Regions from separate parts of the Homo sapiens genome. Here all the other regions are linked to region 3. A link means that fine-mapping ties the variant in region 3 to the plasma level of a protein whose gene starts in the linked region. Region 3 holds a variant in brackets. A gene starts in each other region. All regions are shown on their forward strands. Distances are between the middles of the regions. Region 1 holds the start of MEGF9 (multiple EGF like domains 9). Region 2 holds the start of ITGB6 (integrin subunit beta 6). Region 3 overlaps SLC39A8 (solute carrier family 39 member 8). Region 4 holds the start of CLEC14A (C-type lectin domain containing 14A). Region 5 holds the start of SOD3 (superoxide dismutase 3). Region 6 holds the start of GFRA3 (GDNF family receptor alpha 3). Region 7 holds the start of SSC5D (scavenger receptor cysteine rich family member with 5 domains).

Evidence for each region. PIP is the posterior inclusion probability: the model's chance that the variant is causal. The UK Biobank Pharma Proteomics Project read protein levels with antibody pairs (Olink). The fine-mapping took linkage between variants from a reference panel, not from the people measured, so its PIPs are less certain.
Region 1: MEGF9 starts here. The variant in region 3 is fine-mapped to the plasma level of the MEGF9 protein (UK Biobank, PIP above 0.99).
Region 2: it holds the start of ITGB6, and the variant in region 3 is fine-mapped to the plasma level of the ITGB6 protein (UK Biobank, PIP above 0.99).
Region 4: CLEC14A starts here. The variant in region 3 is fine-mapped to the plasma level of the CLEC14A protein (UK Biobank, PIP above 0.99).
Region 5: it holds the start of SOD3, and the variant in region 3 is fine-mapped to the plasma level of the SOD3 protein (UK Biobank, PIP above 0.99).
Region 6: it holds the start of GFRA3, and the variant in region 3 is fine-mapped to the plasma level of the GFRA3 protein (UK Biobank, PIP above 0.99).
Region 7: it holds the start of SSC5D, and the variant in region 3 is fine-mapped to the plasma level of the SSC5D protein (UK Biobank, PIP 0.98).

The regions. Positions count from the first base shown.
Region 1 is chr9:120,712,105-120,716,169 of GRCh38, forward strand. It overlaps MEGF9 (multiple EGF like domains 9), which reads right to left and starts at 2,366. Exons shown (of 6, transcript NM_001080497.3): 1 at 1,654-2,366. The coding sequence starts at 2,254. RefSeq lists a silencer at 2,054-2,903.
Region 2 is chr2:160,198,317-160,202,381 of GRCh38, forward strand. It overlaps ITGB6 (integrin subunit beta 6), which reads right to left and starts at 1,956. Exons shown (of 15, transcript NM_000888.5): 1 at 1,687-1,956; 2 at 863-942. The coding sequence starts at 1,747.
Region 3 is chr4:102,265,829-102,269,893 of GRCh38, forward strand. SLC39A8 (solute carrier family 39 member 8) reads right to left here. Exons shown (of 9, transcript NM_001135146.2): 7 at 2,044-2,251; 8 at 1,662-1,846. Among named protein-coding and RNA genes, the nearest start is that of SLC39A8, 78 kb to the right of the region's middle. RefSeq lists an enhancer at 1,602-2,801. The variant C/T (reference allele first, on the strand shown) is at 1,724.
Region 4 is chr14:38,255,502-38,259,554 of GRCh38, forward strand. CLEC14A (C-type lectin domain containing 14A) reads right to left here and starts at 592. Exons shown (of 1, transcript NM_175060.3): 1 at 1-592. The coding sequence starts at 521. LOC112268136 (a long non-coding RNA gene) reads left to right here and starts at 544. Exons shown (of 5, transcript NR_169588.1): 1 at 544-944. RefSeq lists an enhancer at 1-401.
Region 5 is chr4:24,793,147-24,797,211 of GRCh38, forward strand. It overlaps SOD3 (superoxide dismutase 3), which reads left to right and starts at 2,427. Exons shown (of 2, transcript NM_003102.4): 1 at 2,427-2,505.
Region 6 is chr5:138,272,247-138,276,308 of GRCh38, forward strand. It overlaps GFRA3 (GDNF family receptor alpha 3), which reads right to left and starts at 2,375. Exons shown (of 8, transcript NM_001496.4): 1 at 2,088-2,375. The coding sequence starts at 2,178. RefSeq lists silencers at 2,098-2,287, 2,378-2,467.
Region 7 is chr19:55,487,502-55,491,566 of GRCh38, forward strand. SSC5D (scavenger receptor cysteine rich family member with 5 domains) reads left to right here and starts at 935. Exons shown (of 14, transcript NM_001144950.2): 1 at 935-1,113; 2 at 1,505-1,531; 3 at 1,853-2,161; 4 at 2,381-2,494; 5 at 2,797-2,907; 6 at 3,271-3,579. The coding sequence starts at 1,089. NAT14 (N-acetyltransferase 14 (putative)) reads left to right here. Exons shown (of 3, transcript NM_020378.4): 3 at 1-65.

The DNA of each region.
Region 1 (4,065 bases), not on the chromosome of region 3:
AAAATTAGCTGGGTGTGGTGACCCACGCCTGTAGTCTCAGCTGCTCAGGAAGCTGAGGTGGGAGGATCGCTTGAGCCTGGGAGGCAGAGGTTGCAGTGAGCCAAGATTGTGCCACTGCACTTCAGCCTGGGCAACAGAGCCAGACCCTGTCTCAAAAAACAAAAACAAAAACAAAAAAAGTCTTCACAGCAACCTTATGAGTTAAGTACTACTATAATATTATCTTCATTTCACAATCAAAGAAACTGAGTCCAAAGAGCTTCAGTGAGCCGCCTAAGCTTACACAGCTAACAAGGGGAAGAGCTAGGATTCAAACCTAAGAATAAACTCCAGAGTCCATACTCTCAACCACTATGCTTCCTGTCTCTCAGTAATATGTCAATCTCTCTATATGAAAGCCAAAAGGGGTTACAGGTAAAACCCAGCTAGCTAATGCATTCCTTGAAGCTGGAAGAGATGCACACTTGGCTTTTTATGGGTGAATAATCCTACTTATGTCATTGCCAAGCTCCAACCCAAGGATCAAGACTGTATTAAGGTTCATAACCATGTGGGAAAATTCTCTACACACTCAATTATAGTCCAAAGTCCATACCTGACTCCACAGTAAATCACTAAGCCTAAGATTTAGGTCAGAGACCCAGCTAGACAAAGGATTTGGACAAACCTCCACCCCAACTCAAAGCAAGACAATTCAGAAACTTTTGTCCAAACGTTCTGACAAAGTAGGCTTTTGTTTTGTTTTGTTTTAGTCCTAGGCCCACTTAAGATTTAAACGGGGAAAGAATACGAGTTGTCTTTAACTTTGCTTGAAGACTTCAGCAAGAAAAGCCTTTTCTACGTGGGCTCAAACAGAAATTGGCATATATCAGCATCAGCAAAGTTGAACATCCTGGCTTAAGGAGACAAAAATAGGCATCCTTGCTTAAATGGTGTATTTGGCCAAACATGTTGACCTTATAATTGTGGAAGAAAAAAATGGTGCGAGGAAGAGATTTAACCTAATTTGTAAATGTGCTCAGCCTAGATACACACCTGTCCCAAATGACCTACTGAATCCACTTATTTGCAGGGACAACATGGATTACAATGCCTTTTTTGTTTTTATTTTTTGCCCTCAAGTGGTCCATACTACTGTTTGTAAACAAAATCCTCTCACTACCTCTCTTCCACCTGTCATACACACACATCTGATATTTACATAAACAAGAAGAAATGAACAGGGAAACTGGAGCTTTGGGAGGAATTCCTTACCCTCAGCTTTTGACCCAGTGGTTGAAGGAGGTACTATGCGGGCTTTCAAACTTCCCCAAATAACCCAGGCAGAGAGGCTGGGTGCGCGAACCCAACCCAAAAGTTTGCGCCCATTCTGGTCTCTGAAAAAGGCCAGAAAGCCCTGTTGGGAAGAAGATGAGATGCCTTCCACCCAGCAGCCACCCCCTCCCGAGGGAGCACAGCCCACGGGGGACAAAAGACTTTCCAGATTGATCGGGGGCGGGAGGGAGACTAGCTGGACCTGGGATCCCCCCTCGGGAGCCGGAACCTGGGGTGTCTTTGGGGTAACAAACGATAAATTATAGGCAAGAGCCCAACCCTAGATTGCCGGGGCTGAGGTGAGGACGGGTCCTGCCCGAGAGGGAGCGCCGGACTCACCTGGAGGAGGCGAAGAGGGGGCCTCGGTGGCAGGTGGGGTGGGGAGGACGCTGCTGTTGCTGCTGCTGGGGAGATCGGGGGTCGGGGTCCGGGGAGTCGTGGGCGCCGGTACGGTGGTCGCTACAGGGGTGGTCGGCGCCGGGCCAGTGGTCGTCGAAAGGGTGGTCGGCGCGGGTCTGGTCGGCGCCTGAGAGGTGGTCGAAGTGCGTTCCGCCGCCGGAGGGGTGGTCGGCGAGGGGCCGAGCGGCGCCTGAAAGGTGGTGGAAGAGGGTCCAGCAGTCGCCCAAAGAGGGGTGGTCTCCGGGGACTGGGCTGGAGAAGTCGCAGCCAGGGGTCGGTGGACGGTGGCGCGCGGGGGCCCGGTCCTCGGGGCCTGGGCCGTGGGAGCCGTCGCCCTAGGGAAGGGGTGGCTGGGCTCGCCCCGCAACCCGGGGCCCGGCGACGCGTCCACCTGCCCCGCGGCCCCGCCGCCACCGGTGACATTCCCCGCCGAGGCGGCTGAGGCGACGGCGGCGGCGGCGGCGGCGGCGGCGCAGCACAACAGGGCGAGGCCGCCCAGGCTCGGCAGGCTCCTCATGGCGCGCTCGGCTCCGCCATTCATTCATTCAGCCAGTCGGTTGGTCAGTCATCTTCTCCTCGTTGCAATCCGACCAAGGAAGCCTCCGCAACCGCCGCCGCCACCGCCACCGGGCGCACCATCGCCACCTCCCTCTGACAGGCGGCCGGCCCCGCGGGCGGGCCCCAGCGCGGAGGGAGCGACCGGACCGAGCGCGGACCGCCCGCCCTCCTCGATTGGCAGCCGCGCCTAACCAATGGGAAGCCACAGTCGCCCACGTGATCCGCCCGCTTCCCGGCCTCTTTGTAGCCCCGTAGGCCAATCAGAGGACGTCCAGGAGAGGGGGCGGTCCGTGAGGCGGGAGAAGGGTGGTGCGAGCCCAGCTCTAGCCCGCCGGGCTCGCGGCGGCCCCGGCTTTGTCTGCCCAAAGAGTGGGGCGCGGGCCTCGGGCACCGGGCGCCGCGGAGCAGACAAAGGATGCGCCCCGCGCGGCAGACGCCGGGCCTAGTCATCTGCTCCACCGGGCTGCGAGCACGAGCGGGGGGTGGAATCAGCACTCGGGAGCATCCCCGCCCTCCTGAACAATGGGGCGCCAGCGCCGCACCCCAGCTCGGGCGGGGACCGCGCGGGAACCCCGCGATGGGAGAGGGCAGCGGCAGCGACGATGTAGAGCTTGGCATGCCCTCTGCTGCTCCAGAGAGCCTGGTCGCAGCCTTGCGAGGTCTCTGCCGCCATTCCCATTTCAGAGATGGGGAAGCTGAGGCCCTTGCTGAGGGCCTCCCTGAACCGAGACCCACGCCCTCACCAGAAACCTGCTGTGGGCCAGGTGTTGTGCCAGACTGGACAAGGGGGCGGGACCGGGCGGTGGAGACCCCTGAGGGCAGAAGGTGCAAGCTTCCTGCGTGGAGGAGACAGGCTCGCAAGCACACTTACCTAAACCCCGGGAAGAATAGGATCAGACAGGGTTGAACCTCAACTTGATGTCTTTTGCTGAATGGTTTTGTGGCCTGAGCGCGGTTTTTTCACCACTAAAATGGAGATGATAGGACACCCCTCACCCCCCACCCCCCTCACAGAGCTGTTGTGAGAATTAAGTCATGGACGTAAAGGGCTTAGCCCAGAGCCTGGCCCACTGTTGTAACCCTCATTAATGCTAACTATTCTCAGCATTTGCGCCAGGGCAAGCCCAGGATTAGAAAGCAGCCCCAGGCCACAGCCCTTCAGTGCCCCCAGAGCCTCCGGCTGGTTGCAGGGGTTGGGGTGGGGCTAATAGCCGAGCTTGACCCTGGATGACACTAAACCCTGAATCAAGCTGGAATTCGGGCACGCAGCCTCGCATCATCCGCCCAGGATCCAGAGCTAGGTCAGGCGCTGCTGCTTCGGCTCAGCAGCTTCCAGAGGAAGCCAGGCAGGGCGGGTTTGTCATCTGATGGGGCTTAATTCAAGCCCCACTGCTAACCCAATCCCGGCCTCCCCTACGTGATGTTTGGCTTTGTGCATGGTTTCCCATTAGTCATTGGTCTTCAACCAGACCAGCAGGATGAGATTTATGTGTGAACCCGTGTATGTTAATTAAAGCATGCATTTATTTTCCTGCATGAGTAGTGGGTGGGGGAGGCTGTGTATGAATGCATAAACATGTTTGTGAGTCTGTGTGTATGAGTGTTGTATGTATCTGTGTGAGTTTATGAGTATGGGAGCTAGTATCTATTTTCATATATTGTGTCTTAATAATCTGTGCATGTGTACTGGTGTGTGTTTTTGTGTATTTTCTGTGTTTTTGCATTTGTGGTTATCTATGGGTGTGTCTTGATAGGTCTATGTATATAAGACAGCGGGAATGAGGGAGAATGTGA
Region 2 (4,065 bases), not on the chromosome of region 3:
AACTCGGAGTTTGGGTTTCCACAGGTAGAACCCAGTTCTGAGTTTGGTGTCGAGGTTTGTTGCTCTTTGAGCATGCTACTCAGCTCTTGCTGCACTTGGTATTCGTATGATTTGATTTATGTTTAGATTATCTTTATGAGATCCAGTGCATAGAGACTTGTTTTAAAATTCAGAAAGCTAATGCCTCTCTTCCTTACCATGAATCAGTTAGACATCATTCTCTAGTGTCTTAGGATGGCTTGGTACATAGTCCCCAATCATCTTCATACTGCTTTCATGTAGTTTTCGGTTTGACCAGATAAGGAGTTCCTATTTGGCACTTTGTCACTGGTGTGGTACAGAGTCACTGAGTTTATGAAAATGCCATTTTTAAAGGAACTGGATAATATCTGACCAGTAATATTTGCCCCAAACTTAAAACACATCCCTTAGAATCTAGCAGTAGTTCAGAATGGATCCTGGTACCCAGAGGGAATACAACTATAATATGAACATCAAATGTATGTTTAACTTTAGAAAATATCATCTCCATGAACTCTGATTATCCAGACAGCCTCCATATTTTACATGTAACCTGTAGAAATGGCTTTACAATAAAAGAAGGAACCAGGTAAAATAAAAAAATCCCAAGTTAAAATTTTTTTCCGAATTATTTGACATCCACTCCTTCTACAAATTGTTTTTGAAAGTAATCACATGAATGCCATTTTGATCTACCAATGCTCACCTTCTCCTTTCCTGATTTGTTTTACTTATACAACTCCACAAAAAAGCAAGTCACTATCAGAAATATCACTGAGGAAATTAACATGAATTTAACTGCAGACAGGTTTTAAAAACACATTGAGGTCATTTATTTTACCTCCTGAGCACACCAGGCACACTGAGGTCCAATAAGCAGGCAGTCTTCACAGGTTTCTGCACCTCCCAGGGCACAGCCACCTAGGTTTAGACCCAGCAAGATGCAGGGATTAAGTACACTTTCAGTCATTCCATTTATGAGACTGATGGCTCTTACATTACTTGAACAAAACAACATCAAAGTTTAGTTTAGTATCCAAAATCAGTCCTCGAAATGTTAGCAATTCACATAAAAGTTTGTATTTTACATCTATCACATGTAAAATATGTGTATGTATATTAAAAATTATGTATGTCTTATAAGCCAAAATTATCATGCTCTTTTTTCTTAAAATGTGAAAGTTCACAAATATAGGATTATCCTATTTATTATTCTTAGCCAATGTGTGCCACTTTAATTTTTAAAAATTACTTGCAACCATTAAAAAATGCTTCTTTCTTAAACAAGTTATTTCTGTTTTTGAAATAAATCCTCTTTCTCTTTCAAGATTATTACTCCTAAGTGGAAGATCTTGTGGTAGAATAAAATAGAAAAGTTTCAAAAATGGTTATCATACTGGCACTAAGTTCCATTGGGCAGTAATGTTATTTAATTCTCCTCATTAAAATGCCTGTGCAACCTTTGTATTTATTTACCTTAAGCCTAGAGCATTCACTGTGGGAACTGCCCGGTGTTTGTCTGTAATTTGTTAAAGTGTTCACTCAGTCACAAAAGAGCAATGGAACAGATCAAATAAAACATGACTTCAGATCTAGTTTCTGAACCAAATGACAGGTTTGTCAAGCATACCACGAAAGTAATATATCAGAGAACGCAGGTCTTACCTTGTACGTGATCATTCCTTCCTAGAAATAGAAAGAACAGGCAAAGCAGTTCAATCCCCATTCGTTTCAGTTCTTGCTGTGCAGACCGATTAAAAAATGAATTACCTTCAGCGTTACAAGACCAACGCTGAATATCGTTAAAGTCTTTCTTTCTTGAAGTATAACATTTTAAATACTACTTACACTGCTTTGAAAAGAAACTTGAGATATAAGTTAGAAAGTTTTCATTAAGACTGAAATGAAAACAGAGGCTACCTGGACAGGTAAAGCAGAAAAGCTGTGTTTAAAAGCAACTTCAACATGATTTACTTCCTTGTTCTCCTTATAAGGAAGGCAGGTGTACAATCACCAAGAAGGTGGGGAAATTCATTCAGTAGAAATTTTGGTGTAAGTTCTATGAGTCTCTCTGCATCCTAGAGAAAGTTAATATCTTTAGTGAAATATTGATCAATGAAAAGTCACAACAGCAATAGAAATATAGTCATTTTAAAAATAATTTTAATTTAATGTAAAGAATAAAGATTAAATAAAGCATATAGGCTATATATGAGGAAAGTAAAAAATGAGCTTAATGAAAATGCCTGAGATTTTAGTGTTTCATTGCTAAATCCTTTGCAAAAAATTGAAACGAACCCTGAAAAAGAAAAATTATTATCTTACAGTAAATGAGAAGGAAGGCTAGGGAAAGCAAAGCACTGTTTCCTTATTTTTTCAAATTAGATGAAATATATTTTTCCATAAGTATAAAATTCTTATTTTAAAATTATATTGGAAATAATCATAATATATAAAAATCAAAGGAGATCAAAATAAGAATGTCTCAAAAGACACTGATGACAACAATGATGAAAACAGAAATGATGGTGCCCAAGATTCTGAATCCCTCAGGCTAGGGACCAAGTTCTCTATGCAATGTGCTGTTCCAACCTCTAGCTCATGATTTGGCACATAGGAGATATTTATTTGTTGAGTGAAAGAGTGACAATTCAAAATATATATGATCTATGGCTAAATCCATGAGGTTTTTTGTATTTTTCCCCCAGGGTGTTCTTCAGGAAGGTGTTTTGAGATTTGTAGAGTCTGTGAACAGATAAGAATCGAATTCTCACTTCGTCACTCTAGAAACTGCTGACCTTAGAGAGACTTTTCTGTGGCCAGGCTTATGTCTGAGGAGATTATCTTTTCAAGGAGCATTCCTGGGTAAGCATGTGAAACCTGTAAACAGAGGGAAACGGACTATGGTCAATAATAATTTAATTCTACATTTAAAAATAACTAAAAGACTATAAATGGGTTGTTTGTAACACAAAGGAGAAATGCTTGAGGGGATGGATACCCCACTTTCCATGAGGTGTTTATTACACATTGCATGCCTGTACCAAAACATCTCATGTATCCCATAAATATATACACCGACTATATACCCACAAAAATAAAAACTAAAATAAAATAATTAAAAAAAAAAAACCAAAGAAAGAGAGAAACTAATTATAGACTACCTAGGCTTTTCTCAGAAGCCTATGTTATGTTCAATTTTGAACTCCATCATATCCAAGAAGCTGGAAAAACATGGCAAGAATTTTGCGGTAACAATCCAGAATTATTGAAGAATTGGAAGATATGCATTTTGAGAGAAAATTTATATAAAATTAGTTGATTTAACTTGAAGAAGAAAGATCGAGCCACAAATTGTTTGTGTCTCTGTTATTGTCATTTTAAAAATCCAGTATTAACTATTATTCATTCATTATTCATTCATTCAACAAGTACTTCTTGGGCATTTACTTTCTGTCAAATATTATTTTTGAAGCAGAGGCTACATCAGTGAACACAACCAAGTTTTTGATCCATGCAGCATATATTCTAGGCTGGAGGGCAGTGCAGGGAGATAGACTTCTAAAATCAGGCAGTGCCCAGGGCTATGAATCATAAGTCTGGGTAAAAGGAAAGAGGGGCAAGGGAGTGTGTGATTTTCTTTAGAATAGTCAGGGAGGGTTTCCCTGACCAACTGGCATCTGAGAGAGCCCTAGATGACTTTGACAACACAGCTAACTATGAAGGCCTGAGACAGCCCAATGGCAGGTGTTTTCAAGGGCAAGTGGAATACAAGAAGGGAGAGAGAGAGGGTAATCAGATTTGAGGGCAGAGGTCAGATCATATGTAGTCTTGACCTTGAATTTTATTCTATACCTTGTGTATCACTGGAAAGTTGAAAGTAGAGAAATAATACTATTTAATTTACATTTTAGAAGAACCACACTGGCTGCTGAGGAAGTGAAAATGTATGCGGCAAGATTGGAAGGTGAATGGGGCAAGAGAGGAATGCATGTCTCTGTCAAGAACAGAGATAATCGTGGCTGGGACTAGGATGTTTGTGGT
Region 3 (4,065 bases):
CTTTCTCCTTTTCCATTACCTGCTCTCTATGCTTCACCCAACCCATTCTTTCATGACCTCAAGTTTACCCAGCAAAATCTTCACATCTACCATCACCTGTACCAGAACTTGTATTTCTCTAATTTTTCAGTGGACTAAATCCTTCACGTTTTACCTTATATCTTGCTAAAACACTTTTGCTAGCTAATCCTAGTTTATTCTAGATTCCTTTATTATCATCTCTCATCATATATTCTACTTTCTCTCTTATTTCATAGCATTTTTTATTATTTGTAATTATTTAGTCATCTGTGTGATTTTTTGTTGTTTAATTTAAGGATCCCCTCTTTCTAGAGGAAAAGCCCCATGAATGGAAAAGCCCCTTGAACTGTGCCTATTTTGCTCACTCCAGGATGAGTATTATTTCTTAGTATTATTTCTTTAAACTGAACAACTCTAGTAAGATTCCATTCTTATATCAGAAAGTAAAATGACTATAAGATAGCATGAGACATTAATTTTGTGACAAAAGTTATAAATGTAGCATTGGTTCTAAGAGATGAAATCCTTGCTCTTCTGAGGGTCTGCAGAGAACAACGAACAGAGCTAGACAAATATAATTTGGAGGTAAGAATGCAAATAAAAAACTCAAATTATTAAATTATGTATGTAATACATCCAGTTCCAAATGCAAAAGAAATAGTCCTTGATTTTCATACACTACCATATTATCATTTTATAGAAAGATTTCCATGATTTATTTTAAAATGCACAGGATATTCTCTCTCTTACACACACACATGCACACTCTTTTTTTTTTAGATGGAGTCTCGTTCTGTCGTCAGGCTGGAGTACAGTGGCACAATCTCGGCTCACAGCAACCTCTGCCTCCCGGGTTCAAGCAATTCTCCTGCCTCAGACTCCCGAGTAGCTGGGATTACAGGCGCCCGCCACCACGCCCGGCTAATTTTTGTAGTTTCAGTAGAGACAGGGTTTCACCATGTTGGCCAGGATGGTCTAGATCTCTTGACCTTGTGATCCGCCCGCCTCGGCCTCCCAAAGTGCTGGGATTACAGGCATGAGCCACCGCACCCGGCCATGCACGCTCTTTTGAGCACAAACACACACATACACACAGATACAAAGACACAGACATTGAACAGATATAAATATATACTATGTCAAATAACTATTGTCAAAATTTTACCAATTTTAGTGTACCAGTTTTAGTTTAACCCAAAAAGCTGTCACTGTTTAGAACTTTGAAATAACAAAATGCTATTTACTCTAATAAGTTATTCCTCTTCCAAATGTGGCATAGACACAAAAGAGGGAGAAAAAGGAGAAAAAGTCCTATAGGGACATACTATAACATAAGACAAGATGTACCAACCACAAGGGGAATAGAGATAGAGGAAAATATCTCTATTTCAGCAAAAACAAATCATTTCACCTTCAAACAATACGATTATGTTTTAAAGAACCAGTGAGGATCAGTTTCAAATTACTATTAGTGTAAACTACTCAAGTAGAATGATCTGTTGAAATGGGATTGTTCTGAATTACAACAGAAAGGCCTTCCACACTGCGGAAAGCAGAAGGCCACCCTTAGTTAACTTATAATCCAGATACTCATTTCCAAATTTTAAATTAAAAGAAAATACAAATTTTAAGCTTCTTACCATATCTGCCAGAGAAATATAGAGGAACATGCCTCCAGCAAGTGCAAATATAATATTTGGAG[C/T]GAAATTGTTGCCCACCAAAATGCCAAAAGCTAGCCCAACATAGCAGGAACATGCAGAAAGGAAGTTGAATAGCAAGGCTTGTCGAGTGCTCATCCCTGCATTGAGTAGGATCACAAAGTCTCCTAGAAGAAGAAGAAGAAAATATCAAGTGAATAGTTTTTTTTTTATTTCTGGATGATATCAAAGATAATCATCAATGTCCAACAAGGTCTTCATTTTAGTGCATCAGAAGGATTTTAAGAGCATGTCACCTGAAAAGTCTCATTCCACTGAAATCAAGAAGTAAGCAGACTTTTACAATATGAACAGAGCTCCTTACCTAACTCGTGGGGAAACTCCTCACATAGGATTGCTATGGAAGTACTGAGTCCCTGAAGGAGAGACAAGGTGCAGGAAGCCCCAATCGCCAGGCCATCGATGAAATTGTGGAGGGCATCGCAGAGCGTTATCATCCAGGCAATCGTCCCTATTTCTGACAGTTTGGGCCCCTTCAAACAGGTACATGAACTTGGCTCTTTTTTTCCATCCTAGCAGAAAATCAATTAAAATGATAACCAACATTTCTTGAAAGTCTCAGAAATACAGACAAGTTGGAGATGGGTTGTGCTTGAGAAAAACAAATTGTTCCAACAGAAAGTCTTTTAGAGTAACTAGGAAACCCTAATAATATATAACAGAGCAAAGAAAACTTATGGTTGAGAGAAAGGAAATTCATCAACTGACACACCTCGAATAAGCCACTAACAGATATTTTCCTTTACTTTCCCTTTAAAACAATTCTTTTGACTTGTATAAACTTCTTCCTACTGCCTTTCTAAAATGTAGCAGATATTAACCTAAGAAATTTATTTATACACAAGATTTAAAATGAAGGAAGTTATTCAAAGACTAAACTTAAAGTCTTTTTTATGTTACAATTTAAATGTGAAATCCACAACTAGAGCATGATGAATGACATCAGCAACATTTGTTCTAACCCCTCCTATGCCACCATGTGACAGGGAGCAAGTTATCACAGAGTTCCTTCAACTGTGAAATGAAGACATTGTACTAAATGATTCATTTATTTATCAACAACTTATTGAGTTTCCATTCTGTTCCAGGTACCCTGTGGAGGGTTTAGGCTGTAACAATATGGTCTCTACCAGCTCCAAAGCTTAATTATTTTCTTAACAAATTGCATGAAGTGTAAATGGAACAGGCTAGCCTTTACACTAACACTTCCTTTCATGTAGAAACAATTAAAAAATAGAAAATCCTGTGATGGACTCTTTGTAGGAATTTAGATTTCCAGAAAATTTACAAAATTGTACAAAATCAAATGACAAATGCCAACTAAAACACTTTCCAGAAGTTGTAGAAAAAGATAAAATGCAAATTCATTTTTAAGTACAAAAGCACTTTGCAATTAACTGGAGAACATTTTATTCCTAATTCTCCTCCTCTCACCTCTACCTAAGCAGCTAATCATTACATTTATTGAACTTCTGAAATTTGTAAAACACTCTGTTGAATGCTATAGGAAATACACAGAAATGGAAAACACAGCTTCTGTCTTCAAGAAGTGTATTTACATTGGAGAAACAAGTCATAATATATATGGATACATTAAAAAAAAAACATGCAATATATATCCAACAGAGAGGGGCTTACTTCAGAGCAACCATCTAAGAGGTTTTACAGTTACTCCAATATCACTTCACCACTCCAAACACTTTGGGGACCAACACTTTCAGAATCAGCCTTAGATCCTGCAATACATCTCTTTACTATTTCGTTAGTGGCAAATCTGCACCTTTGGATTTTTGTTTGTTTGTAGGCACAGATAAAAGCATTTGGAGCAAATATTTTTTTAATTAATATGAAATGAATGGGAAACTGTTAGTAATAGGATTCATCATCATTGTCATCACCAATGTGGTCGTAGTAGAAATAGTAACAGCAAAGGCACATAGCATTTATAATGTGCTAGGCACTGTTCTAAGCACTTCAAATACCGAATTCATTTGGAACAATTCTATGAGGAAAGTACAACTGTTACCATCATTTTATAGTTGAGGAAATTAAAGCACAAAAAGGTTGGTAAACTTACCCAGAGATACAAAAAAAGAGTGAATGGGCATTTTTGGCAACAGTGCTTTACTACTACACACATATCGGGGATGGGAATTCTTCTCTGTAATAGGATCTGAAGGTAATTCGCAAGGAGACTTCCCCACCTCTCAGAAAACTCTTCTGAACGCTTGATGCAACATTGAGTAAGTATCAAATCTTTTTTATTTTAAGAAACAAAGCTTATCCGCATAAAAAATTCTATCTTTTCTTAAAATGTGGGCTTTTT
Region 4 (4,053 bases), not on the chromosome of region 3:
TGGTACTTGCACAGGTAGCCGTTGGCGCGCAGGTGGCATCGCATCTCCTTCCAGCCTGCGGGCTCGACCCCACCGGTGGCCTGGAGTACCGCGCATCTCCGCGCGGTGCAGGAGCGTTGGGGCTCCTCCACCCACTGCAGCGTGTCGCTTTCGAGACCGCCGGGGTCGGAGGACAGCCAGGAGAAACCCCGCAAAGGCTCGTTCTCCAGGGTGCAGTGGGAACGCCTGCGCTCCAGTGCGACCCAGAACAGCAGGTCTTTGGAGCCCCCTCCGGGCCCTGGGCCTGCCCGCAGGAGCGCGAGCACAGCGCGCAGCTCGGCGCCCGCACGCACGGTGCTGAGCGCCCCACCTCGCAGGATGCAGGCCTCCTCGGCCGCCTGCCGCTTCATGGTAGCGTGGTGCAGGCTGTAGCAGGCCCCCGAGGCCGAGCAGCCAGCACGGTCGGCAGTGGGGTGTTCGCCGCCGCCCGGCCCGGGCCAGAGCGCCTGCCAGAGGAGGCACAGGGCGAACGCCGGCCTCATTCTCTGAGGCCCCGCACGCAGAGCTGCTCCCAACTTGGATCTGTCCCGCTCGAGGACGCAGAGCTGTGTCTGGAGCGCGGTCACCGCCCTCTACAGCTGGCTTCCCCAACCCGGTTCCCCCTCCCTTCCCCTCCGCCCTCGCTCCCGACGGACCCCCCAACTGCCAAGAATCCCCCCGCGGGCCCAGCGGCCAACAGTTTCCCTTAGGCCGCGACAGGAAATGTGTGCGGAGCGCTGCCAGGCCCGGTGCAGCCCTGAGTTATTCTGGGGTCAGGAACACAGCTGGCGCCGGGTACAGGGGACGCAGTCGACTAGAAGGTCAAACACCCTGCTTAGAGCAAGAGGAGAAATTCGCCACTGGGATGAAGTGTGTGGTTTTTCTCCGTTCAGGGAGTTTCATCAGGACCGCAGAACCCATAACACGTAAGCGAACATAGGCAGGAAGGACTTGAGAAAGGAACTGGCTTATGATTATAAGACCACGCCCGTCTATTGTGTTTCTGTCCGGAGCTGTGGAGTTAGCGTCAGAATAATTCGTAGACGGCTCCAGTGTTTGGGGGGCCTGTGCCTGTGGGGGAAAAATATGTTGTGAAACAACTTAGCAACTGCTTTTGCCACCAGAGGCAGCACTATTTAACCGCATATCTCTCTATGGGTCTTTGCTTCTCTATTATGTCAAGAGATTTCAGGAGTCCTAACTACTAAAGAATTTGGAGTTGTTTGGGTATTTTAAATGGGAAATTCTGCTTCTTCCATCAGCACTTGCTTTAGAAATTTATTTTTCACTTCCACGTGTTTCTCTTTGAGTTAGACCATATTGATTCATTACAGAAAGGAAATGTATTTCTAGGACTAAATGAAAAATAATGACCATAGATCTTAACAGTTAGGTTGTTAGCTTTCCTTGCCACTGTATTGGTTCAAAAATTCTTCAAGTTTATAGGTTATACATAAATGAGTTCGTGGCCTTATAAATATTCGAGAACAACTGCCCTATGTGTGATTTTAGCCTTGAACTATTTTAGTATCATTTTCTCCTATGATTGAGTGGCAGCATTTATAATAGTAAGTTGTAAACATCTCCTTTAAGGAAAATTAGAGTTCCTTAAGAAATTAAAATGTTTATTCCATTATAATGAATATTGTATACTGTCAAAAAATATCTTGTAATTTGAAAGATGGGTGAGCCAATTTCTTTAGAATTCCAGTGGGTGTTTTGTTTTAATATAAACATTTCAACTCAGTGGGAAGTGGCAAGGAATTAAAGATGAATAAAGAAGTAAAGGTTAAAAACTGTACTGTTATGAAAGGATTTCTTGTTAGCAACTTAGACAATTCAGTATCAGTTTAGAAAACGTACATTCTATCTTGGTTCATAATGGCCAAATACGTTGCCATCAGAAATACATAGAGAGTTTCAGCTAAGCCCTCTTAGAGATGTCTGATGCTTTTAAATATCTTTAATCAGAATGAAAGTTGCCATTCCATGGATAATGCATATAAGCTCACTTTGTTTTACTGCATTCAGGTTGATGAGGGGTGGGAGGGAAGGTTTCAGGATCACATCTGTATGCTTCCATCTTATTTTTACCATAACTCTCATTCTTCTTTCCTCCTGGAAATTCCATGTATCTTAACAAACAACAGTAAGCCTATGAGTCATCATCATACTTACCTTGCTTTTGCTGAGTATGGAGCTTTGCACTAGGATTTCTCTCCTGCCCTATTTCCCAATTTAAAGAACATTCCTTAGTCCTTCCTTCAGATGTCTGAGAATCACCTTAAACGTGGCTTTGCGTTTAAATTAGGTAACTTAGTGTCTTATAAGAAAGAAACATGAAAATCCAGAAATCAAATTGAATGGTTTTTAAAAAATACTTAGTCACTTGGGCCAGCTCTCTATAGACCATTGCAATCTTATGACTGTGTTTGTAAATGTGTCCATGTAGTGCAATATTTTTAATAAAATCTTTTTCAAACTTAAGTAGTCAATGGAAATTTCTTAGATAGCTTTAAAAATCGTTTGGGATGAGATGAGGTGTCTACAGTAAGAAAGAATGAATAGCTGGAAAGCTTAAGTAAATACATGATCTCACTCCCTGACATTCTGTCTAGGGGAGTGGGATTATAGCAGAGAACACATTGGCCATAACGACTATATGAGAGTACTGACCATGACCATGACCATATCATGGAATGACACAAGAGTTAGAAAAAATTAGCTCAAAGTAGGACGTAAATAGTTTTGTAATTAGTTTGAAATAGACAGTTTATCTGACCAAATTAGAAATGGAGGAAAGTTTCTATTTTTTAATAATATTTATTAAGATAATAATATAGAACCATTTTACCCCCACTGGATTCCAAATGCCTAAAAATCTTATAATACCAAATGTGAATCTATTGGCTCTTTTACATGTTACAGATTAGAGCAACCACTTTGGAAAAATTTGACACTTTTTTTCACTAAAATTGAATATTTGCAAACTCTAGCACTTCCATGATAAGGTATAAAACTAAGAGAAATTTTTGCACATGTACAACAGAAGATATGTAAAAAATGTTTATAGTGACACTATTCATATTAACAAAACGTTGAATCAATCAAAATATCCAAAAACAGTATAAAAATAAACTGTAGTATATTCACTAATTTAATATTATATAGGAGTAAAAATTAGTACAATATAGTGGCAAGTAACAATATGAATTTATTTTAGCAATACAATGTTAATGGACAGAAGTTCCAAAAACGATACAGAGTCTGACATTTTTATACAATTAAAAGAACAGTACTAGATATATGTTTGTGTATTCTTTAGAAAAATAGTTACAATAAAATGAGACAAAAGAAACAATAAACATAAGATTCTTAGTGATGCGCCTTTTGGGTGAGAGGAAAGAGAAGGATGGAATGTTAGGGGAACTAGCAGGCTTGATATGGGCTGTTGATAGAGTCCTAGCTTTTGTTTTGTGCAGTGGCTTTGTGTCACTACCCAAATAATGGAATCTTTATTCCATTATTAAAAATAAATAATTAGTAATGAACAAATAAATCAAAATGGCTATATCTGGATAAATAAGTGAATGGACATGAAGCAGGAATTAAAATTAATTTAATTCTGAGTGGTTGAGTTTCAAAATGAAAAGTAAAAATAAAATCAAAATGTTAATTATGTTTAAAATATATTTTCAGTATATTTTCTTTATTTTATTATTATACTTCAAGTTCTGGAGTACATGTGCAGAACATACAGGTTTGTTACATAGGTATACACGTGCCAGGGTGGTTTGCTGCACCCATCAACCTGTCATCTACATTAGGTATTTCTCCTAATGCTATCCCTCCCCTAGCCCCCCACCCCCTGACAGGCCCTGGTGTGTGATGTTCCCCTCCCTGTGTCCATGTGTTTTCATTGTTCAGCTCCCACTTATGAGTGAGAACATGCGGTGTTTGGTTTTCTGTTCTTGTGTTAGTTTGCTGAGAATGATGGTTTCCAACTTCATCCATGTCCCTGCAAAGGACATGAAC
Region 5 (4,065 bases), 77 Mb before region 3:
TCCACCCCACAAAAAGTATTGCAAGCATTAAATACGATACTATATGAGAAAGTGCTTCATAAAGTGTTCAGCTGCAACTTCAGAAAACTCAACCTAAACACCTTAAGCAAAATGAGAATGTATCGACTCATATAATGAAAATAGAGCATCTGAACCCATGCCAGTGGGTTCAGATTTCACTCTACCATTTTTTTTTTTTAGAGACAGGGTCTTGCTACATTGCCCAGGCTGGAGTGCAGTGGAATATTCACAGAAGTGATCATAGCACACTATAGCCTTGAATTCCTGGGCTCAAGCAACCTTCCTGCCTTAGCCTTCCTAGTAGCTGGGACTACACATGCGTATACCACTGCACTGAGCTCTCACTCTACTTTTATTCCACAGCCTTCTGCATTGGCCTTATCCTCAGACAGCTTCTCCCTTAGTGGAGCATGATGGCTGCAATAACTCCAGCCTTTTTTCTCCAGTTTCAAGTCCAGTAAGAAAGAGAGGATGCATCTCTTTCAACAGTCCCAGTGAAAAGTGGCATTGCATCTCATTGGCTCTGAAGGTGGATCATCCCTGAACCAGTGCAATAGTACGATTTATCATACCTAAGCCACAAGCTACCTCTGGAGCAGGAGATGAAGTCAACACCACCTGCTGGACTGAAAGTATAGTGGTTTCTCAGAAAGGAAATTGGGATGTTGTTACCAAAGGAAGAGGGAATGAATGTTGCCATGGTGGGGAGGTTGGGGGCGGTGGCGAGAAAAAGGCAGATTTCCTCTAGAATGCCATCAAAATGAAAGTAAATCTAGGCTTTAGCACAAGTCCTAGAATACCAGAACGGAGACGTGCTTTCTTGGACCTTAAACGAAATAAAATTAGGCCAAGTGAAGCAAGTGCCATTTAAAATAGTAGCTATGAATGTATATAATTAGGATTTCAAGAACTGAATGAAAATATAAATGTTTTAAAAATGGGAAGAAAGATTCACAATAAGGAACTAGACTGTTGCAGGGTGGGGGTGGGGTGGTGGGTGGCATGGGGAACTCTGAAAACTCATTAGTTGAGGATAACTACGCCTACCAACAGAATGCAGAGGTGCAAGACTGAGCTACTGGTGCCTGAGTTCTCAGCGGGCCAGAAGGAAGGACGGTAGGGTGGAAGGGCTGGAGTCTCAGTTCTGGGAAGTCTCCCTCTTATCTCGCAGAATGCCTGTCCCTGGATAAAGATCATTAGTTTGAGTTTTTCCAAGATGATTCTAGGAAGCTCCTGCTGGTAACTAAGTCACCCATCCTGGGGTGGGATCCAGAGATTTAGATTTTTTATAAGCTTTCCTGCCACCGAAACGGGTGTTTGGGACCTCACGAGGCCCTGTTCATTCTTCGTCGCTGCGCTCCCCACTCTGTACTGGATGCATTTACTGACGTTGTTGTCTCCGTCCCCAGAGTATGAACCCCCAAGGTGACTCATGCAGCTGTGGGTGCCCGGCATACAGCATGGTGACTGGAATGGATGAGCACCCAATAAACATTTGTTGCAGGAATGCAGGAGGACGGGCAGGCCAGCAAGCAGGCTGCCTGGTTTTTCCCACATGGGCTTTTCTGGGAAAGAAGAGCTTCTATTTTTGGAAAGGGCTGCTATGATTGAGAAAAGTTCATGGCAGCAAAAAAAGGACAGACGTCGGGAGGGAAACACTCCTAGTTCTCCCAGACAACACATTTTTTAAAAAGACTCCTTCATCTCTTTAATAATAACGGTAACGACAATGACAATGATGATTACTTATGAGTGCGGCTAGTGCCAGCCACTGTGTTGTCACTGGGCGAGTAATGATCTCATTGGATCTTCACGGTGGGCGTGCGGGGTGGACAGCCTCACACCCCCATTTTACAGATGATGAAAAGGAGGTGCAGGGAGTGGTGCAGCTGCTTCAGGCGTACACAGATAGGAAGTGACAAGGCTGGGACTCTGCAGCCTGAGTGTGTCATCACGACCCACCCGCTGCTCTGCTCTCATAGGTATGACAGCACAGCTCTGGAGCAAATGCCACGCACATTTGCAAGGTGCCCATTTCCATGCAGCAAAAATAAGTCAATAAGTTATTGACTTACAGAAAAGCAAAGGGCCTCTCAATAAAGAGGTCATTGTACACCTCTCCAAACAGGCGATTTTCTTTCTCATTTTTATTCCCCTGCTGTGTGCTGAAGGTCACTGGCTACAAGCCGGTGAAGTCGCGGAATGGAATCCTTGGCCCGAAAACCCAAAAATGGGAGGGGCAGAGGAGGTGGGGACAGAGCGGGAGGAGGTGGAGGCGAAGCAATTCTACAACCCGGGGAGGTCTGGCCTGCTTTTCCTCCCTGAACTGGCCCAATGACTGGCTCCCTCACGCTGACCACTCCTCTGGGCTGGCCTCCTGCACTCGCGCTAACAGCCCAGGCTCCAGGGACAGCCTGCGTTCCTGGGCTGGCTGGGTGCAGCTCTCTTTTCAGGAGAGAAAGCTCTCTTGGAGGAGCTGGAAAGGTGGGTGCTAAGTTGAGGTTCATTTTGTTCTTCTCGGAGTGTGCTTATTGAGTCTGAAGCTGGGTTGGGGCAACGGGCCTCTTCTTGGGAACAAATTGGATCATCTTCTTGGGAAGGAAATGTACTTTCCCTGGCTGCTCTGAGGGGTTAGTGGGGAGGTGGAGTGAGCGGGGAGGAAGGCAAGGAGGGGAGGAAGAAACCGTTCCTCCTGTGGATCTGCAAAGACCAGTCCAAGAGGATTTTAGTGTTAGGAAAAGGAATCTGGAGTGACGAGAAAGGGGGCCTTTCTAGATGTTGCATGGCTTTGGTGTCGGGAGCCACTTATGGGACAGCAGGTACTCTAAAAAGCCACCTCCTTAGGAAAGCAGAGAGGCCCTGGCCAGCTCAGGCTCCCAGCAAGAGCTCCTTCTAGGAGACAGCTGAGGGATGAAACACACCCAAGGCTCAAGAGGGGCAGGTTCTTCCCAGATACAGACCCAGGAAGGAGATAAAGGCTTGGTGCCTCTATTTGGTTCAGGATAAGGGCCCCTGTCCTCTTTCTCTGATAACACTGTCCTCTTTCTCTGATAACACCGTCCTCCCTTCCAGATCCACGTACAAAGGAGGCCCTTAAAAAGGCACTTGGTCATTCACAGCTCAAACTGAGCAAGAGGCTGTGGGAGAAGAATCAAGTTGGTCCCGAGGGGAAGAGGTGTCAAAGGCTTAAGAAACAAGAAGTCAGAGTTTACCTGGGTTTGAGGGAGAATTTTCTTTCCCCCTTTTCCTCCTCCTCCTCCTTCTTCTCTTTTTTTTTTTTTTTTTTTTTTTTTTGAGACATGGTCTCATTCTGTCACCCAGCACCCAGGCTGGAATGTAGTGGCACGATCACTATCACGGCTCACTACAGCCTCTACCTCCCGGGCTCAAGCGATCCTCCTACCTCAACCTCCTGAGTAACTGGGACTACAGGCACATGCCACCACACCCAGCTATTTTTTTTTTTTTTTTTTGCTAGAGATGGGGGTCTCTACCAGGTTGGTCTCATACTCTTGTACTCAAATGATTCTCCTGTCTCATCCTCCCAAAGGGGTGGGATTACAGGCATAAGCCACCATGCCTGGCTCTTCTTTTGGTTTCAGAGAAAAACATCTCCTTAAAATGTTTATTTCCCAAGGATTCTTGAAAAAGAAAGCTCACTGACACACCCAAAACAATCTGGTTTTGCTCTGTGCTTTTAGGGAGAACTTTCTAAGCAGCAGAGCCCTTCTGAGTGGCAGGGCTGTCTTAGGAGGAAGGTGTCTTTGATGATGGGGAACTTCATGTCCAGGTCTGGCAGGAGAGTTACCCCACTTTCCTGCCTACTCCCTGGGGCTTTGGGGTAGTAGTACCACATTGGGCCATGTCATTTAGGTGAGTCCTTCAACATCACTTTCTCTGCTTCTCCCTCTTTCTGGATCCTCCTTCTTGGAGCCTTTCAAGGGGACCTCCTCTCACAGTGTCCATAGCATCTCTTAGCTAATGGTCCTTAAAATCTCTACCAGCAGCTCTCTCTGATAGCTAAGAGCTGCCATTTACTGGGAA
Region 6 (4,062 bases), not on the chromosome of region 3:
CTACCCGTCTCAGCCTCCCAAAGTGCTGGGATTACAGGTGTGAGCCACTGCACCCAGCCAGTATTTTCTTAAAGTTGTAATTAGTGGCCAACATTTAAAAATCAGATTTTAGGCCGGGTGCGGTGGCGCACACCTTTAATTGCAGCACTTTGGGAGGCCAAGGTGGGCAGACTGTTTGAGCCCAGGATTCAAGATCAGCCTGGGCATCCGAGATGGCAAAAACCCGTCTCTACAAAAAATACAAAAATTAACCAGGTGTGGTGGCACACTACTACAGTCCCAGCTACTGGGGAGGCTGAGGCAGAAGGATTACTTGAGTATGGGAGGTTGAGGCTGCAGTGAACTGGAATCACACCACTGAACTCCAGCCTGGGTGACAGATTGATACCCTGTCTCAAAAAAAAAATCAGATTTCAAATAAAACTATTAATTTCCAATTTGTCTTGAAAAATGGAAACACTCGGGCCCACATGTAACGGGTGGAGTAATGACTGCCCCCTTTTGACAAGTCATGCCTTTTCCAGCTTGTTATAGTCCATACCACTTTCTATTACTTGCCCCACCTCCTCATTTATACAGCCACTGCCACGTCTATTTCATATTGATTTGTTAGCAACCTGGTTTTGTAACTTTGTTTTCTGCTTCTTGGCTCATCAGAGAATGAGTAGCTACAGAATGGGTCAGATCAGGCTATGCCTCAGGGCACAAGATCCTCATTTGTTTCTCATCAGTGAGGCCCACAACCCAGGTATCCATTTTATAGTTGGATGAACAAAGAAAAGTAATGTGCACCAGGGGATGTAGCAAGTCAAGACCGAGTCAAGGCTAGAACCCAGGACTCCAGCCTCCTATCCACTTCAGAATGATTTTCAGTACATGACACCACTTCCCCATGAATCGGAGGTCTCCTATATGCTTGGCTTTAGCAGGCCCTGAGCAATGATATTTTCCACCCCCAAAGCCCTCTGTTGGTCTGTGCTCTTGAAGAGCACTTGGCTCTACATGGTACCTCCTAGATGACTGTTTTATGGATTTTCAATGAGGCTACTTAACCAGATGTCATTGCTGTCAAGTATTACTGTGGAAAATAGATCTGTCACCAACACTGCTTCATTAAACCATTTAATGAGAAAGGTGTTTAATGTTTTCCCCTGATCCTGACATGCAGCCATAACCTTTAGGATTAGTGAAATTTCCTGGGCAGTCAAATCAGACTGGTGATGTCTTGCTGCCCTGACTTACTGATGTTGGCAGGTGGACAGACCAGGGTTTTTCCTCCTTCCTTCCATATCTGTCTCAAGGCAGCATTTCTACAGCACTGCGTTGTGGACTGAGGTCTCAGGGCAGTGTGGTGGTCTCTCTGTCTCAGGAGTCCCTCCATTCAGTCTCTGGGCAGGAGCCGCATAATAAGATTCCACACACCCATACCACTCACGAAGGCCATGGGCCTTCCAGGGATCTCGGATCCCAGGCTGTTCTTCCTTGGGGGAGTGGCCTGGTTCTAAAACCAGGCCTTGAACTACATCTACAAAACATCTATTGTGGATTATTTATTATCCAAGGGGCAAGCCACTGTGCTAGACGGCTTGCAAGGCCTGCTATTGTAGAAGGTTATGAAACAAGTCAGTTTTAACGAACTTCTTTTTCTTCACCTGTACCTAGTTTCTTCCTCAGTCCTTAAAGCAGATGGAAGAGTTAAAGCCCACGTGGAGCAAATGACACTCTGTTTCTGATCTGATTCTCCCCGCCTCTTAGAGACGCTGTCTTGGTAGTGACCTGGCTGTGGGTTGTTCTGTGACTGTGTAGACCTACCTCAAAAGAGGGAAGAGGGGGGAAAAAGGGGCGAGGAGGAGATGCTTGGGTGGCCAGGCCATTGCTGGCACTCAGTCTATCTCAGTTCGTACACTGTGTTAGGTGTGACCCCAGCCCCTTGCAGGCACCCTGGGCTTCCTGCTCCAGTTCCCCTTGTTCGGCTCGGATGCACCGGGAGGCTGCTGCGCCCTCTCCGGACAGGTGCCCCGGGCCTCGCCTACACCTCACCTCCCCCTCCCACTGTACCCCCGGCCGGTGCGCGCTCTGACACTCACCGGCTGCGAGAGGCAGCGGCGACGGCGGCAGCAGCAGCAGCAACATCAGGACTACGGGCGGCAGCGGTCGCGGGTTCAGGGGGCGCACCATGGCGAGCTGTAGGCGCCGGGCTCCGCGCTCCCCTCGCTCCTCCCCTGGAGCTCTGAGAGCGGGGCTCCCTCGACCGGCACCTCCCGCCCCCGCCTCCCGCCCTCCAGCGCGACGCACACACTCTCCCACCAGGGTCCTGGGCGCCGCCCTCCAACTCCGAAGCGCGCGTCCACACCACGCGCCTCCAGCGCTGGTCCGAGGGACCGCGGGGGTGGGGGCGGGGGAGGGCCGGCGCCCCGGGAGCCGCCGGGCTTGGTGCGGAAGAGGTTGCTCTTTCCGAGGCGGCCCACCTGCTGTCTGACAAGTTCGACTAGCAAGACATTGTGGAAGCTGCCGCTGGAAACTCGCCATCTAGGAGAACCAAATATTTCTCCAAGAAAAGCACCCTTTCTCACTTTCTGGATCCCACTCACCCACACATCAAAGAACAGACACCACCACAAAAGAGATTTTGTAACAAAACTTGAACAAGCCAACACAAGGGCACTTGCATTTCTAGTATTTTTCTTAGAATTTGCACATCTATGATCTCGTTTTTTCCTCTCCTAAGTGTCTTCTAGGGTAAGATTGGGTGGTTATTAAGCTCAAGATGCTGCAAAGATGGGTCGCAGACAGGTGGAATGGCTTTGCTGGGGGAGCAGACCTGGGGCATTAGATTCCAAAATTCAGCCCCGATGGTGTCGTGAGGGAAGATGGAAGATTAAACTCTCCACTAAATAGCAGAGATTTCCTTGGACCAAAGCTCACTGAGGAAGGTGCCTGGAGAGACCATTTAGGAGCCCATCCTTTTCACATGATGAGACTTTCGGAGAGCAAGCTACTCTATCAGGATTAAACAACTAGGTAGAAACACATCTGTGCCCAGAACACAGGACGTCTACCCATAAGGATAAGGGTATTTATTGGGCCTGGGCCTGATTCCCACAAGATCCCAGGATAAAGCCAGAAGCAGAATGGCTTGGAAGAATGAGAACTAAGCAGCGCATAGAAAGAGAGAAGGAGAAGAGGGTGATGAAAGGAAGTGGAGGGTTTCATCCCCTAACCCTCTAACTTGACCCCCTCCTTACTTCCACAGCCAGCCTGGCAGAGGGCCAGCAGGGAGTACTGAGAATCGCAATATAAACCTCTGAGATTTATTGGCTGCTGCTTCTGAATATGGCCATCCTGCTGTGGCCTCTGGGGGGCATTTGCCGATGTAATCAGCCCAGAAAGAGAGTCATTCCAGCTGGGGGTGTAAATCACCCTTGGCAAAGCTAGGAGAGAGACATGTGGCCCTAGATAAGGAAGGAGACTGATGTGGCCTCTGTGCCCTTCCCTCCCTTCTCCTGCCCAGGGGGTGCTGGTTCCTGAGCTGTAATGCACTTTAAATGGAGTTTGTCCTTCGTTTTAATCTATATCTGCCCTGCCAGTTTTACAGAAGAGCTGTAAAAGTGAACATCTGGCTACTCAGCTTTTGTACAAGGCCTGTTTTCCCCCAGCTCCACCCTATCTCCATGTGCCTTTCCCAAGCCCTCCTCTCCAGAAAGGTGAGGGAACATGAAGCTGGGGGGCTACCATTAAAGGCCCCATGATGTCAGGCCCTCTACCCCATTGCCAGAGAGAAATATGCTCCAGGCACCTCATTTTCTCTCACACCTGCTATTACAGGCAGACAATCGTTTTTTGGGTTTTTTTTTTTGAAACTGACAATACTTAAGAAAGGAATTTATAAAGCAAAATGTAACAATTTCAGGCTCTTTGGGATGATAGGAAAGGGCTGAGACCCATGAACCAACAAAGATGTGAGGTGGTCAAGGGGTGTCTCCTCTGCCCTCCCCCTCCTCCAGCCCAAGCCAAATCATGTTATGGGCAGGAAGAGGGTTTGGGAAAGGAAGTTTGCTCAGG
Region 7 (4,065 bases), not on the chromosome of region 3:
GCCCTGTCCCTTCCTCCAGATCCGTCTGGTTTTTTACACCGTTTGTTAATAAAGCCTGAAACCGCTGTGTGCCTGTCTCTTCTCTGATGGCTTTCCCAGTCTGTCTCCGGACACCCCCGCCCATTTCTGTCTGGCTTCTCCTTTCCCCAGTTAACATTAATTGTTGGGGGACGGTGCTGGACTGGGAGAAGGGGAGGCTGTGAGCTCAGGGGCAGCCCGAGGCCCTGCCAGCCCTTCTGAGTCACGCTCCCCATTACCGAATTTTTTCCGCCTCACAGCTGCCTGGTGTGCAGGCAGTGGGGTGTGTGTGTGTGTGTGTGAGTGTGTGGAAGAGTGTGTGGAGCCCCTCCCCTTCCCAAGCCTTGACCCTTGTGCTGCTTATCCCCCGACCCCAGCTCCCTCTGGGACAGTGAAGTTCAACCTCTCCTCTCTCAGCTGGGGACTGGGGGCTTCACACTCAGATCCACCAGTGAGTGGGAGGACTGGAGGGCCGGGTCTTTCAGTCTCTTTTCCTAACCCAGGAAGTCCCTCCTGGTGTCTGGCTGCAAATCTTCTTGCTGCTGCACCAAGAACCCCAGGTCTGCCCAGCCCCCAACCCTAGCAGTGGTCTCACTGGATTTCCCTGACCAGACAAGAGGGGAGACAGCAGGTGGGCGCCCCTCCCGCTCATGCTGCGCCCCCCCCGCACACGTCCCCCAACCCCTGTCCTGTGCCTTCCTGCAGCCGGCCACCCCCTAAGCATCTCTGGGCACAGCACTTTGCTGGCTGGAGCCTGCCTGGCCGTCGTCTCCATCTCCCGTGTGGGTGTCTGCAGTTGGACACCCTCCCTCCCGCCCGCCACCCCCCTCCCCCCCATGCCTCAGCAGACGGCCAGCCCCCTCCCGCCCCCCCTCCCCCCCACCGTCCCCTGCCGCCTCCCTGCAGCCTCTTTCTTCCTCCTGGCAAAGCGTCCAGCCCTGCCTGCTCCTCCTCGGGCCTGGGCGCCTCCAGCAGGCACTTCCCTCCCTCCCTCTCTCCCCAGCTGCCTCCTCCTCTTCTCTCCCCGCTCTCCTTCCCCTTTCACCCCATCCCCTGCCCTGGCTGCAACCATGAGGGTCTTGGCCTGCCTCCTTGGTGAGTGATCCATTCTCCTTGGGGACTCGGGGGGCCTAGGCCCCCACCTCTGACCCCTTAGCTTGTCCAGTTTAGGGACTCAAACTTCCGGGACTGGTCGCTGGTGCTCCTGCATACCCTGACATCCCTTCTGAGGATCCCTGCTCAATCTGCCCAGCCTTCTGCCAGCCCAGAAGCCCAAGGGACCTGCCCCCTGCCCGCCCCCCAGCCCTGACCCTGCGGGGGATCTCCCAGACATCTGACCTTTAGCCAAGCCCATGTGTGTGTGTGTGTGTGTGTGTGTGTGTGTGTGTGTGTGTGTTGGGGTATTCAAGATGAGGGGCCTGCGCTGGAGAAAGGGCCACCCCCGGCCTGCCCCTCACACTGCCCCACCCTCCGCCCTCCCTTCCAGCGGCCCTGGTGGGGATCCAGGCTGTTGGTAAGTGCCCAGACTCCTCCCATCTGCCCGCCCCCCCCCCCAGGCCTCCCCCTTCTGCCCATCCAGGCCTGGCCTCACCCCCACTGGGTCCCCGGCCCATCCGAATTCCACTGTGACCTTGGCCCCAGCTCCGCAAGGGAATCCCCCAGGTGTCTGGCCGCATCTCTCTGAGCACCCAGGAGTCTGGGCCCAGGGGCCAGTGAGCAGGGCCACTGGCCTACAGACAGTACCTGCAGGACAGCCACCTGCCCCTACAGTTGCCCTGGCCTTGGGGCCCCCAGGATGCCCCTCCCCAGTCACAGCCATTCCTCCAACCCTCAGAGCGCCTGCGCCTGGCCGATGGCCCCCATGGGTGCGCTGGCCGCCTGGAGGTCTGGCATGGCGGGCGCTGGGGCACCGTGTGTGATGACGGCTGGGACCTGCGCGATGCCGCCGTGGCCTGCCGGCAGCTGGGCTGCGGAGGGGCACTGGCCGCCCCGGGAGGCGCCTTCTTCGGGGAGGGGGCAGGGCCTGTGTGGCTCAGCGAGCTGGCTTGCCGGGGCAACGAGGGGCAGCTGGGCCTCTGCCACCACCGGGGCTGGAAGGCCCACATCTGCTCCCACGAGGAGGACGCGGGCGTCGTCTGCGCAGGTGAGGACACCCTGGCTGCTCCTTCAGGGGGAGCTCCTTTGGAGATGACCCAGGAACCCCAAGTCCTTAGCCCCAGCAAGTCTGAGTGTTCAGCAGTTCAGAGACACCCAACCTCCCATCCCCTCCAAAGCCAGGTGGCTAACTCCCTCTTCCAGGGACCCAAATGGCCTGGATTCCCCTCCTCTCCTCATAGCTTCTGTCCCTGCCCCCCCGCCGCAGGTCAGCGTGTGGCTAACTCCAGGGACGACTCAACATCTCCCCTGGATGGGGCTCCCTGGCCAGGGCTGTTGCTGGAGCTGAGCCCCAGCACGGAGGAGCCCCTGGTGACACATGGTGAGCCCAGGGGACTGCCCTGCCAACCCCCACCCAGCGTGCCCTCCTGCCCCCCCCGAGGGGAGAGGGACTGCCCTGCCAACCCCCACCCAGCGTGCCCTCCTGCCCCCACCGAGGGGAGAGGGACCTCTGCAGTATGAACTCCCAGGGGACACACAGCCCGCCCCCTGCCCCGCCCCGTCTCCTTCATAGCCTAGGGAGTCCTCCATCACTTCAGACCCTCAGAGACGGAGGCCTGGGCCCCCAGGTGGGAGGAAGGATGAGGGGCTCAGCTCCTGACCCCTGGCTGTCTCCACTCCCAGCCCCCCGCCCAGCTGGGAACCCCCAGAACGCCTCCCGGAAGAAGAGCCCCCGGCCCAAGCAGGCCAAGTCCACCCGGGCCCCTCTGCTGACGACAGGAGCCCCCCGCCAAGGTAAGCTCCCTGCAGGCTCCCCCGACCCCAAGGCTGGTTGCTGTGAGGCCCAGGGCCCAGAAAAACTGAGGACCTGCGGGCGCCCTCTCCTTAGCCGGGGCCCTGGAGGGATCCCAGTGTTCCCCGCGTCCCTCCCCCGGGGATTTAGACGGCCAGGCCTGGTCTCCCCTCTTCTTCCTGCCCTGTCAGGAGGCCCAGGTGTCCTGGCCCGCTCAGGTCGTGGACTCACCTCTTCACGGGCTGCCGGCGGACAGATCTCAGGCCACCGCTCCCTCAGGCCTGTTTCCCCAGGTGGAAATCGAGGAAGGGGTGTTTGAATCATTTCTCACTGGCCACACCGTCCCCTCCCTGCTCACCCCACAGAGCGGCTGCGCCTGGTCTCTGGCCCCCACAGGTGCGCCGGACGCCTGGAGGTCTGGCACGGCGGGCGCTGGGGCACCGTATGTGACGATGGCTGGGACCTGCGCGACGCTGCTGTAGCCTGCCGGGAACTGGGCTGTGGGGGGGCGCTGGCTGCCCCCGGCGGTGCCAGATTCGGGCCTGGTGCAGGGCCCGTGTGGATGGACGATGTGGGGTGTGGAGGAGGAGAACAGGCCCTCCGAGACTGCCCCCGAAGCCCCTGGGGCCGGAGCAACTGTGACCACAGCGAGGATGCGGGGCTGGTCTGCACCGGTACGTCGGGCTGGGGCCTGGCCCCCTCCTGTCTTCCTCAGACCCCAGCTCCCTCTTGCCCCTCCAGGAAGCTGCAGCGGGCCTGCTCCCAGCTCTGCCTCCTGCCCGCCTGCTCTCTGCATGCCCAGCGCCCACTCACCACGCTCTCCAGCCCCTCCTTCCACAGCTCCTGCCGTTCTCCTTGCCAGGAATGGGAGGAGCAGGCTTGAGGCTTGGGCTAGTGCTCAGCCCTGTCCCGGGGCCTAGGCCAGTGACCGTTTGTTTAAGCCTCAGTTTTCCTGAAGGAGCGATGGAGCTAAGAATGCCTGCCTCAGGCTTGAGCCAAGTCCTGGAACGCAAGAAGCCCTGCCTGCCCTCTGCCACCGGGCTGGCCATGGCAGGGGACCGTCTCGGAGACCTCTTGTCTCTGTGGCCAACCTCTGCTCCTTCCCCATCCTCAAGGGAGCTGGTGGGAAGGAGGGAGGGAGGGCGGTGACTTGGGGGCAT